Linked DNA regions of Homo sapiens: region 1 is linked to region 2. Evidence: fine-mapped expression QTL. Tissue or cell type: tibial nerve. Region 2 holds a variant in brackets; the other region holds the start of a gene. All regions are shown on one strand. Distances are between the middles of the regions.

The links. PIP is the estimated chance that this variant, and not a neighbour inherited with it, causes the effect.
Region 1: FGF4 starts here. The variant in region 2 is fine-mapped to the expression of FGF4 in tibial nerve (GTEx, PIP 0.95).

Annotation. Positions count from the first base shown.
Region 1 is chr11:69,772,870-69,778,555 of GRCh38, reverse strand. It overlaps FGF4 (fibroblast growth factor 4), which reads left to right and starts at 3,215. Exons shown (of 3, transcript NM_002007.4): 1 at 3,215-3,811; 2 at 4,429-4,532; 3 at 5,071-5,686. The coding sequence starts at 3,472. The coding sequence ends at 5,247. RefSeq lists enhancers at 1,543-2,466, 4,316-5,241 and promoters at 2,931-3,326, 2,214-3,326.
Region 2 is chr11:69,742,273-69,748,454 of GRCh38, reverse strand. No RefSeq gene overlaps it. Among named protein-coding and RNA genes, the nearest start is that of FGF4, 30 kb to the left of the region's middle. The variant G/A (reference allele first, on the strand shown) is at 3,611.

The sequences.
Region 1 (5,686 bases), 30 kb before region 2:
ACTGAGAATGCTAAGAAGTGAAATAGCGTAAGGTTATACAACTAACAGGGAGACAGCCTAAACTTGAACCCAACCGGAAGCCCAACATGGCCCCAAGCCTTCCTCGAACCCCAGGACTTGGCAAAGCGGGCGTCCTGGGGTAAAGCATGGCAGAAGGGCTTTGGGTCCAAGCTAAGTGAGGGTCCTGTTTCTAGATCACCTGGCCAGGTGCAGTGGCTCATGCCTGTAATCCCAGCACTTTGGGAGGCTGAGGCGGGAGGATTGCTTGAGGTCAAAAGTTTGAGTCCAGCCCGGGCAATACAGCGAGACCTCGTCTCTACTAAAAAAGAAAACAAAAAATTAGCTGAGTGTGTAGTCCCAGCTACTCAGGAGACTGAGGCTGGAGGATTGCTTAAGCCTGGAAGTTTGAGGCTGTAGAGCTATGATAGAGCCACTGCACTTTAGCCTGGGCAATGGAGCAAGATACTATCTCAAAAAAAAAAAAAAAATTATATATAGGTCCCCTTGTCTCTCTGCTGAGAAGTAACCAGATCTGGAAAAGATTTAGTCACCTTGGTCCAACTATTTCTTTCACATAAAGAAAAAAAAAGGCAATGCAGACCTTCCCATAGGGGCAGCTCTGCCTGAGGCCTTTGCAGGTACCTCTGTTTGTCTGCCCCGGGGCACAGTGGCAGATTGGGCAGGGCAGCTTGCAGTGAGGATTGCTGATGGATGAGCTCCTAGTGTACCTAGCCAGCCATTTACTCACAAACAGCTATTGAGCACCTACTATGTGCCCAGCACTGGAGGTACAACTGGCAACAACACAAATCCGGGCTTGCTCCATGGAGATGACAATCTAAATGCGGTGGAGGGTCAGCTAACAAGTGCAGAAGGTTCTCTTAAGAGCTCAAAGAAGCTCCAACCAGAAGGACTGGGCAGGGGATCCAGAAGGCATCCCCGAGTGGCTACTCCAATGGAGTGGCTTCTCCATTCAGGCAAACCTGAATGGGATAAGTCATTGGCAGGAAGATCTGGGGCCGGGGGTCATCCAGTGGGAAGGGGAGAGATGACGCGGTCAGCATGGCGGGAACACAGGAGCAGAAAGGAAGCAGGTGGGAAGCCAGGTCAAGGGCCAGGGGCACGGAAAGGGGTCAGATGCAGATAAGTGAGTGCTTCCTGGTGCATCCTTCATCCGCAATTCTTCCTTACCTGTGCTTTTGTTGCCTCCATTGCACAGCTGAGGAGGCCAGGGCCTGCGGAGGTTGAGAGTGTGCTCAGGGAGCACCCGGAGCAAAGTGGAAGCCAGATTCCAGATCAGTTCTGCTGGGAATTCCCAGCTCCCAAAAGCCCTGCTGGCTGTCAGTCCCCAGTCACCACAAGCACCTATCCTGTGTGGGTGGGCCTGCAGTTCTGGGAGATATATCAGCTGCCTGCAGCGTCCTTTGCTGAACTCACAGCAAATAGGAGAGACAGGGAGGGGTCCTTGGGAAGCCCTAAATTGAGCTTGCTGTGGGAGTCCTGGGAAGAAAGGAGCCTCATCCTATCAAAAGCCGGGGGAAGACATCAGAGTCCCTCTGCTCAGGTCAGCTGGCACAGGTGGGTCTCCAGGCCTGGGTCTCACTTCCCCAGAGGGTGTGTTCGGTTGGCCCCAGGCTGAGGGAGGAAAGCCCACCTCCCATGTCATTTTGCAAATGGGGAGTCAGGGACCTAGAGATGGAAAGACAACACAGCAAGTGAGGGATGGGTTCTAGGTCCCCTGCACCCTGCACCCTGCACCCTGGCCAACGATGTCTATTTGGCACCAGATCTGCAGGCTCATCTGGGGGACCCCAGGACCCAGAGGCAGCCGGGTTGCATCTCGAAGCTGTGAGCTGCAGCCCAGGAAGGTCCAGGTCTGGGTGGCGCTGCCCAAGCAGGCTGCAGGCCCAAGGAGGAACAAAGATCCTCTCAAGGGGTGCGGAGCTGAGGTTCCGGTCCTGCCAAAGCCACTTGATGACCCCCAAGTGCCCCCCTTTCTGCACCTCAGAGAAGAGCCCTCAAGCCTCCCAGGTCCCCTCCAGGGGCACGAATAAGCCCCAGCAGGGTTCTGAAGGGGTCCCAGGAATCTCCCTGTGGGGATGCGGTGGAGGTGGAGGAGGCTGCGGTGGCCTGGGGACATCTCTGGTCACAGGTGCTGGTGGTATGAGAGATGGGGTAGGCACCAAGCCCCCTGCAGCTGTGGCTAGGCGGGCCTGCAGGAAGGGCCAGGCAGGCTCCTCAGGGACCACAAAGAACAGGGGTTTTCACACCTAGGTGGGCCTGCATCTAGCTAGGACAGTCCCCATCAGGCCATAATGGGCACAGTGGGAGGTAGAACCATGAGTGAGAGAGGGGAGGCTTCCAGAGGCCTGGCCTGGGTCCCTGCTAGATTGAGGGCTCTGGCTATGGTACATGGATATTTCTGCTGTGGAATCAAAGGAGCAGGGGATGCTGAATATCCCCTCTGGCCCTATGCCCTGCTACCTGTCCTTTCACGGAAGGGTGTGTGTGTAGGGGGTGCAGGACCAGGCCTCCCTGGGTGCATCTCTGCCACCTTGCCCTTTGGCTCAGGTGGACCTCCACCAGGTATTCAGAACTCCAGCCCAGAAACGCGCCAAGCCTGTGGGGCCAAGACCTAGGGGGTGGGGGTGGCCTCCCTCCCGCCTGTAGCCAAAGGGTCCTCCCTTGCCCAGCCAGGCCCCGGTGTCGCTTACTGCTCTTATCCACCCCTCCTTCCCAGGCCGGTCCTCAAGGCCCCAGCAAAGGAACCAAGTTCCCGTGAGCCTCCGAAAGGCGAAGGGCAGGCAGCAGCCGCTGGCTTCTGCGCCCACTAGGAGCTTCGGATGCCCGAGTTAGGGCTGCGCCAAGGCGGCCGGAGCAGAGAGGGAGACGGGGACGGGGACAGGCAGGGACAAAGTGCAAGAGGCAAAACTGGCTGAAAAGCAGAAGTGTAGGAGCCGCCAAGGGGCGGGACGAACAGGTCCGTGGGCCGGGCGGAGCCAAGGGTGGGGGCCGGGGTCCCTCCAGGTGGCACTCGCGGCGCTAGTCCCCAGCCTCCTCCCTTCCCCCGGCCCTGATTGGCAGGCGGCCTGCGACCAGCCGCGAACGCCACAGCGCCCCGGGCGCCCAGGAGAACGCGAACGGCCCCCCGCGGGAGCGGGCGAGTAGGAGGGGGCGCCGGGCTATATATATAGCGGCTCGGCCTCGGGCGGGCCTGGCGCTCAGGGAGGCGCGCACTGCTCCTCAGAGTCCCAGCTCCAGCCGCGCGCTTTCCGCCCGGCTCGCCGCTCCATGCAGCCGGGGTAGAGCCCGGCGCCCGGGGGCCCCGTCGCTTGCCTCCCGCACCTCCTCGGTTGCGCACTCCTGCCCGAGGTCGGCCGTGCGCTCCCGCGGGACGCCACAGGCGCAGCTCTGCCCCCCAGCTTCCCGGGCGCACTGACCGCCTGACCGACGCACGGCCCTCGGGCCGGGATGTCGGGGCCCGGGACGGCCGCGGTAGCGCTGCTCCCGGCGGTCCTGCTGGCCTTGCTGGCGCCCTGGGCGGGCCGAGGGGGCGCCGCCGCACCCACTGCACCCAACGGCACGCTGGAGGCCGAGCTGGAGCGCCGCTGGGAGAGCCTGGTGGCGCTCTCGTTGGCGCGCCTGCCGGTGGCAGCGCAGCCCAAGGAGGCGGCCGTCCAGAGCGGCGCCGGCGACTACCTGCTGGGCATCAAGCGGCTGCGGCGGCTCTACTGCAACGTGGGCATCGGCTTCCACCTCCAGGCGCTCCCCGACGGCCGCATCGGCGGCGCGCACGCGGACACCCGCGACAGTGAGTGGCGCGGCCAGGCGCGAAGGGGCGGGGGCGGGGGGCAACGGCCGCCGGGCCAACCCGCTCAGTCACACTCTGAGACCCTCGGCGGGCACCTGCTCGGGGGCCCCGGGAACCGGGGCGGACTCGGGCTCCGGTCCCTTCTGACGCGGGGCTGGGGACGCAGACACTCTTGGCTCCGGCAGCCCAGCGCAACCCCTGAGGTCGGGCGCCGCCTCCCGCCTTCAGAAACTCGGGCTCCGAGCGCCGAATTCCAGCGCCTTCGCCCGTGGGCACAGGGCGCGCGGTGCAGCCACAGGGGGCCCGAGACACGCGCCCCGGCCTGGCCCAGGCTGGGGAACCGCTGGGGTCGGGCTCGCGTCTGAAGGTCCGGGACTGGGTGCGGCCGCCGGGGGTCCCCTACACAGGCAAGCTAATCTGAGCTAGCGCAGGCTTGGGCTCCGGAGGCCCTAGAGGGCAGCTTGGGCTCTGGAGGCCCTTGGGGGCGGCTGCGCCGGGAACCCTGGCCCTTTATCCCCAACCCCACCCCAGAAATAGGGTCCCCGGAGGCGAACAAGCCGAGGGGCGGAGTGGGCCAGGGATCACCTGCCCCGCAATGACCTGCGCCCCGCCCCCAGGCCTGCTGGAGCTCTCGCCCGTGGAGCGGGGCGTGGTGAGCATCTTCGGCGTGGCCAGCCGGTTCTTCGTGGCCATGAGCAGCAAGGGCAAGCTCTATGGCTCGGTGAGTACCGCAGGGGTCTGGCTAGGCACCTAGTTGGGAACAGCGGACATGGCTAGCAGGCTCGTGGCTTCTCCAGCCCCACCTGTGCCTGGGTCTTGGAGGGGTGGCAGGGTCACCAGGTCACGGGACCGGCAGGCCTCCCCAGACAAAGGAAGCAGCCCCAAGGCAGGAACAATGAGGTTCCTGCCATCCCTGAGTGGGCCCCTCCCAGACCGAGGAAAGGGCGCTATTGAGAGCCCTTCCCTTCTCTAGTCCAGAGGGGTAGGTCTCAGTGTTGGAACTGCGGGCTTGAGGCTGGACACGGAGGGAATGAATTCTCTGGCTGCTAGGTGCAGGGCAGGTGGTGAGAGCACCAGCTGTTGTGGGCTGGCCATGTCCCCTTCTCACCCTGTGTGGGTCTTGACACCTTAACTGCTCAGCAGAGACATCTCAGCCCAGGGTGGGGGGTGGGACAGAAGGGGGTTCTGACCCCTGGCTTCAGGCTGGGTACCTTGCCCAAGAGGTGCCCCAGCCCTGACACTGCCCTGCTTTGCTGCAGCCCTTCTTCACCGATGAGTGCACGTTCAAGGAGATTCTCCTTCCCAACAACTACAACGCCTACGAGTCCTACAAGTACCCCGGCATGTTCATCGCCCTGAGCAAGAATGGGAAGACCAAGAAGGGGAACCGAGTGTCGCCCACCATGAAGGTCACCCACTTCCTCCCCAGGCTGTGACCCTCCAGAGGACCCTTGCCTCAGCCTCGGGAAGCCCCTGGGAGGGCAGTGCCGAGGGTCACCTTGGTGCACTTTCTTCGGATGAAGAGTTTAATGCAAGAGTAGGTGTAAGATATTTAAATTAATTATTTAAATGTGTATATATTGCCACCAAATTATTTATAGTTCTGCGGGTGTGTTTTTTAATTTTCTGGGGGGAAAAAAAGACAAAACAAAAAACCAACTCTGACTTTTCTGGTGCAACAGTGGAGAATCTTACCATTGGATTTCTTTAACTTGTCAAAAGTTGTCACGAGTGTGCTGCTATTCTGTGTTTTAAAAAAAGGTGACATTGGATTCCGATGTCATCCCCTGTAGTATGGCGTGGAGCATCTCTGTCTGGAAAGGCCCGCCTGAGGCTTGGGCAGCCAGTTCAGGGAGCTCCCAGGCTTGGCTCTCG
Region 2 (6,182 bases):
CTTATTGCTGTGGTAGTGAATGAACAAACATCCTACTCCAACGGCACTTATGCTGAGGTGGGGGAGAGAAGACAAGTAAAACAAGTAAGAAAATGACACAGTGTCTCAGGAGGTGGGGAGAGGCAGAATGGAGAAGAAAGAAAGGGAGGGCTGCAGGGAAGGCCAGGGAGGGGGCGGGATGGGAGGGGCTGCCACTTTAATTCCAGTGTTCGGGAGAAGCTGTGCTGAAGAAAAAGTGTCCCTTGGGCATCGATGAGAGGGCAGCCTGCAAGTGGATCCAGGGAGGGTGCCTCAGGCAGAGGACTCAGTGGGGACAAAGGCCAGGAGACTGGACTGGAAGAGAGAGGAGGTCAGGGCAGCTGCAGCAGCGGGTGGGTGGAGAGCAGAGAGGGAGCTGCAGAAGCAAAGGGCCTAGGGGGCCATGGCAAGGCTCGAGCTTTGCTTGGAGTGAAGTGGGAGCCACTGGGCCTTTTTTTTTTTTTTTTTTTTTTGAGACGGAGGCCCGCTCTGTCGCCCAGGCTGGAGTGCAGTGGCATGATCTCGGCTCACTGCAACTTCCGCCTCCCTGGTTCAAGCGATTCTCCTGCCTCAGGCTCCCGAGTAGCTGGGATTACAGGTGCCCGCCACCATGCCTGGCTAATTTTTGTATTTTGAGTAGAGACGCAGTTTCACCACGTTGGTCAGGCTGGTCTCGAACTCCTGACCTCGTGATCTGCCCACCTTGGCCTCCCAAAGTGCTGAGATTACAGGCGTGAGCCACCACGCCTGGCCGCCATTGGGGGAATTTAAGCTGAGCAGGAGCCTGATGAGACTTGAGCTGTAAAAGGGTCTTCTGACTGTGGGACTGAGAACAGATCACTGTGGAACAAGGAGGAGAGACCACCTGAAGGCTCCTGTCATCACGAGGGGAGCGAGGTGGGTGCCTGGAATGCCAGGGGAACTGGGGTTGGAGAGAAGAGGTGGCGGGTGAGCCAGGACTCTGCACACGTCATGCTGTCTCAGCTCACAGGGACAGCCAGGCTGCCTCCCTGCCCTTGACCTTGATGACCCCTGACACTTTGGGTTGGAAATGCATTTGTCTCCATTTCAATGAATGATTTATTTTCCGGTTTATAAAATGCACCCACCATACTTGCTCATGAGCTCACAGACCCAAAGAAAGAACGTCAGGAATTTCCCAGCAGGACAGGGGCCGGGCTCGCCCCGCCCCACACGCAGGCATCTCTGCTCAGCCCCCTCACCCCTGCCAGCCCAGCACCCAGAGGCTGAAGCCAGCAGCAGCCCCGTGAGGCCCCACAGGCCCTGTGGGAGCAGATTCCAGGCCCAGCGATCAACCCTCGCCTACGGCCACCCCTTCCTGAAAGGTCCCCTCCTCGGCCGTCGAAATCAGAGACCGCCTTGACCGGCTTGCTCGTGGGCTGGCAGCTGGCAAGCAAGGGGACGCATGGATTTCCAGGGGCAGAAGGCCGTCAGCTGAGAGCTCGGGGGCTCCCAAAGGACAAGACCCAGCAAGCAGAGAGGGAAGGTGGAGGGCACAGCCCAACGCAGCCCTGAGCCTCAGGGGACGGCAGGGGAATCCACTCAGCTTTGCTGTGCAATCCTGGACAAATCACTTAATCCCTCTGTTCTGCATGCATCCAGCTCAAAACGGTGCTTAGGAGGCTGGGGTGCTGGGACCCTTCATTAAGCCATGTTTGCAAAGCCCTCCAAAGGCTGCAGATGAAAGTGCCTATTGAAGTACAAAGCGTGTCTCCAGTAACCCTCTCCGTCCCAGGCGGGACTGGAGACCCATAAAAGAGAAGGAAAGAGGCGGCCAAGGGCATTTGGCCCCAAGCACAGAGGCCACCAAGACTAGACCCTGGCAATGTCGGCCCCTGAGAGGCACCTCTCAGCAGCAGGCTCCTCACCACCGGCTCCTGTCCCTCCTTGTCCCTCACTAGGCAGCACCCCAGCACTCTGGCCTTCCTCAGCAAGCCCATCTGCATGGGGGACAGAGATGGATCAGAACCCTCTGCAACAGCTGCCAGTGGAAGCCTTAGACCAGCGTTCAAGGCTCCAAAGCATGGCCCCAGCCAGCCTGGCCCTCACTGTCCTCACACAGGCCACCTCTGCGCCTCCTCCTGATCTCCTCCAGCCTAGACGTCCTCTCCTCTGCTCGTCTGTGCCTGGAGGTCCAGCCCTGGGGAGGCTCCCTGCCTCCATAGCCATGGTTCGTGGGTGCTCAGGATCCCGGCATGGGAGTCTGGGTGTGCATATCCCCTCACCCCTGGGGTCCTCAGATGTCACATCCGTGGAGCCCACCGACCTCAGGCACTGGGGCTCTTCCCTGACCCCTGACTTCCCCTGCCATCTTTCTACACAGAAACAACCCCATGCCCTCTGTCTGGAATATTCCGAACTGCCCTCCTTCATCTCTTTGCCCCTGCACTTGGGGAATGTCTGCTAAAATGACTCTCACATGTCACTCTGCAGTGGCAAAAAATCAGCTCCAGTCCCTCAGCCACCACCCAGAGGGCCTGCGGACCCTCCCTCCTTCATTCCCCATTCCACGTCCCAGCCCTTCCTAGCCCTCCACATCAGTGATTCACAAAGGACACAGTTCTAGCATGACCAGGGCTTGCTCGGGAAGAGGCTGTGTGGCAGAGGGCCCTTCCTGGCCCTGGCTTCCCTGGTGGGGGCCCTACAGGCCAGCCTTCCCTCCCCCACAGTGCACAGGCCAGTGCCGCCTGCTGGGGTCCTGACCCCACAAGGACAAGTTTTCCCTGAGCTGCCCCCCCAACTCTAGGGGCAACCTCCAGATGTGCCAGGGACAGCCAGGGCCCCCAGAGACTGAAACGAGGTCCCAGGGAGGGAAGGATGTGTCAGTGGTCCCCCCGGGGTGGTCCATGACACCTCAAGGTGCCAATCACCCACATGAGGCCCAGCAGGCACTGAAGCAAGCCCGCACCTGGGTGGGCACGGGACAGGCTTTCTGGAGAGCAATTTGGCAGTGCAAGGCAGTGCAAAGCAAAGCAAGCAAAGCACGGATCCCACCCCTATCTGTCACTCGCCCTCCAGGCCTGGAGCCTGAGAGAGTGACCACGGGCATGCAGTGCGTGCTCACATGGGGGCTGGAGAGGTTGTGGAACGGAGGTTCCTCAAAAACTCAAACTAGGGCTGGGCGTGGTGGCTCAAACCTGTAATCCCAGCACTTTGGGAGGCTGAGGCAGGTGGATCACCTGAGGTTAGGAGTTCGAGACCAGCCTGACCAACATGGAGAAACCCTGTCTCTACTAAAATTGCAAAATTAGCTCAGCGTGGTGGCGCATGCCTGTAATCTCAGCTACTCGGGAGGCTGAGGCAGGATAATTGCTTGAAGCCGGGAGGCAGAGGTTGCAGTGAGCGGAGATGGTGCCACCGCACTCCAGCCTGGGCAACAAGAGCAAAACTCCATAAAAAAAAAAACAAAAAAAAAACAAAAAAAAACCTCAAACGGAATGGCTCATACCATCCCTCAGTCCTACTGCTGAATAACACTCCAAAGAACTCAAAACACACGTCTACACAAAAACCTATACACAAGTGTTCACAGCAGCAAATTCACAAGAACCAAATGTCAACTCGAATACCC[G/A]TCAGTGGACGCAAAGATCAACAAAATGCCATCTTCCCATACAATGGGATGTCGTTCAGCACGAACGGGAATGAAGCCGGGACACAGGCCACAGTGTGGGGGACCTTAACAGCATGATGGCCAGGGAAAGAAGCTGGGTCAGGGGCCACACGTTGAGTGACTCAGCTCTATGAAATGCCCAGAACAGGCAGGAAACCAGAGGCTGGGGGAGGGGGAATTAGGAGTGACTGCTAAGGGGTGATGGAAACATTCCAGAAGTAGATGGTGGTGGTGGTTGCAAAACATTGGGAATGTTCTCAATGCCACTGAACTGTAAACTTTAAAAGGGATAAAACGGGAAGTCTTATGTGGCATGTATTTTCTACAATGAGAAAAACTGTTATCCTTGGCTGGGCACGGTAGCTCACACCTGTAATTCCAGCACTTTGGGAGGCCAAGGCGGGTGGATCACTTGAGGTCAGGAGTTCGAGATCAGCCTGGGTAACATGGTGAAACCCTGTCTCTACTAAAAATACAAAAATTAGCCAGGTGTGGTGGTGGGTGCCTGTAATCCCAGCTACTCGGGAGGCTGAGGCAGGAGAATCGCTTGAACCTGGGAGGTGGAGGTTACAGTGAGCCAAGATCATGCCACTGCACTCCAGCCTGGGTGACAGCGAGACTTAGTATCAAAAAAAAAAAAAAAAAAAAGAGAGAGAGAGAGAGAAACAACTTTAGTGTCAATCTAAAGGGGACAGGTGAAGTAACACTGGAATTTATATTCTGCAGCATTAAAAAGGATGCAAAACACTATTCAGTGATGCAGAAAGATGTTCCCAAGCTATTCAGTCAAAGAAGCAGGTTTTTGGGAGGCTGAGGTGGGCGGATCACGAGGCCAGGAGATCAATATCATCCTGGCCAACATGGAGAAACCCTGTCTCTACTAAAAATACAAGAATTAGCCGGGCGTGGTGGCGGGTGCCTGTAGTCCCAGCTACTCGGGAGGCTGAAGCAGGAGAATCACTTGAACCCAGGAGGCAGAGGTTGCAGTGAGCCAAGATCGCACCATTGTACTCCAGCCTGGTGACAGAGCAAGACTCTGTCTAAAAAATAAAAATAAATAAATAAATCTTTAAAAGAGCAGGTTAGAATGGTTTACTAGAAAGGTATTTGAAAAAGATACACATACATGACTGTGCTTGGAAGTTCTGGAAGGACAAACACCACAATGTTCATGCTGGTCATCTCTGGGTAATGGGACACAGAGCATTTTTGTGTGTGCATCTCTGTGCCTGCACATTTGTTCTCAGCTGTTTCTAAAATTTCCACAGCAAACTTTTGTAACCAGAAAAAGTTTCAGAGCAGGAAAAAAAAAAAAAGCAATAAGTATCAGGATTTTTCTAAAAGTCCAGCCCCCCAACCCCCGCATCCCAGCATATGGAGGTGTGGAGTGAAAGCCATCGTGGGCGGCCCCTCTCCAGTCCCTGTGGGCAGTGGACAAGGATGAACAGGCAGGGCAGGGCCCCCGCCCCCCGCCCATATGGTCTGTATATCTCCTGGCCATCATTCCTTCCAGCCAGGACACCACAGGACACCAGCTGAGGAGGAACTTACAAAGAGCAGGGGAAGGTCTTCCAGACCCAGGGGACGCCAGCACCTTTCCTTCCTGGACCAGTAGGACAGCATCACTCATTCATTTCTTCATTCATTCACACCTTTGTCAGACCTAACACCTGGCGAGTGCCCACTCAGGCCCCATGTGAGGGCCTGGGAAGCTCAGGAGACTGGCTAAGGCAGGAAGAGGAGGGTTCAGCCCTTTGCAGCGGCTCGCATTCCCTCTGCAAGCCCTGGTCTCTGTGGTGGTAAGAGCTGGTCTTCCCTTCTGGGCTGGAGGGATACTGGCAGCATCAAGCTTCCTCCCAGAGAGCAGTCTAGTCTTCTCCAAGCCAGCCACATCCTCTTCTGCAATCAGCCTTGGAGGACACTCAAGGCTCATTGGTAACTTTTTCCTCATTGCTGACCCTGATCCTGCAGGCCATCTTATGCTGAAGCCATCCTATGTGCCGGGCCCCAACCTGTGCGCTGGGGCTTCAGATAGGAGTCAGACAGAAGCTCCCTGTGTGATGGTGTGCTCCGGGAAAGCCATCTGAAAAACCAGATGTTCCCAGGTAAGATGCTTAAAACCGAGTCATTCCCCTGCCCACATCGCCAGTGCTACCCCCACATAGAACAAGAGCCACGTGTTCTGCAGGGTGAGGCCTCGGCCATGTCCTCTCCTCCCCTGACCCAGCCACACACTGACCCCTGTCATGCCCACCACCCTGCAGCCCCTCCACCCTTCCAGGCTGGTGCTCCAATGCCTTAAACGCTTCCTGCCTCAGGGCCTTTGCAGTCTCGGGTGCTCTTCTCCAGGTCTCTGCGGGGCTGAGTCCCCATTGCATGGCGATCTCAGCTTAAATACTGGCTTCTCTCACCTCTGTAGCTAAAGTGATTCCCCCTAAACACACCACCATTATCATCTGCTTTTTTGATTTTCCTTTTTTTTTTTTTTTGTTTTTTTTTTGATATGATGTCTCATTCTGTCGCCCAGGCTGGA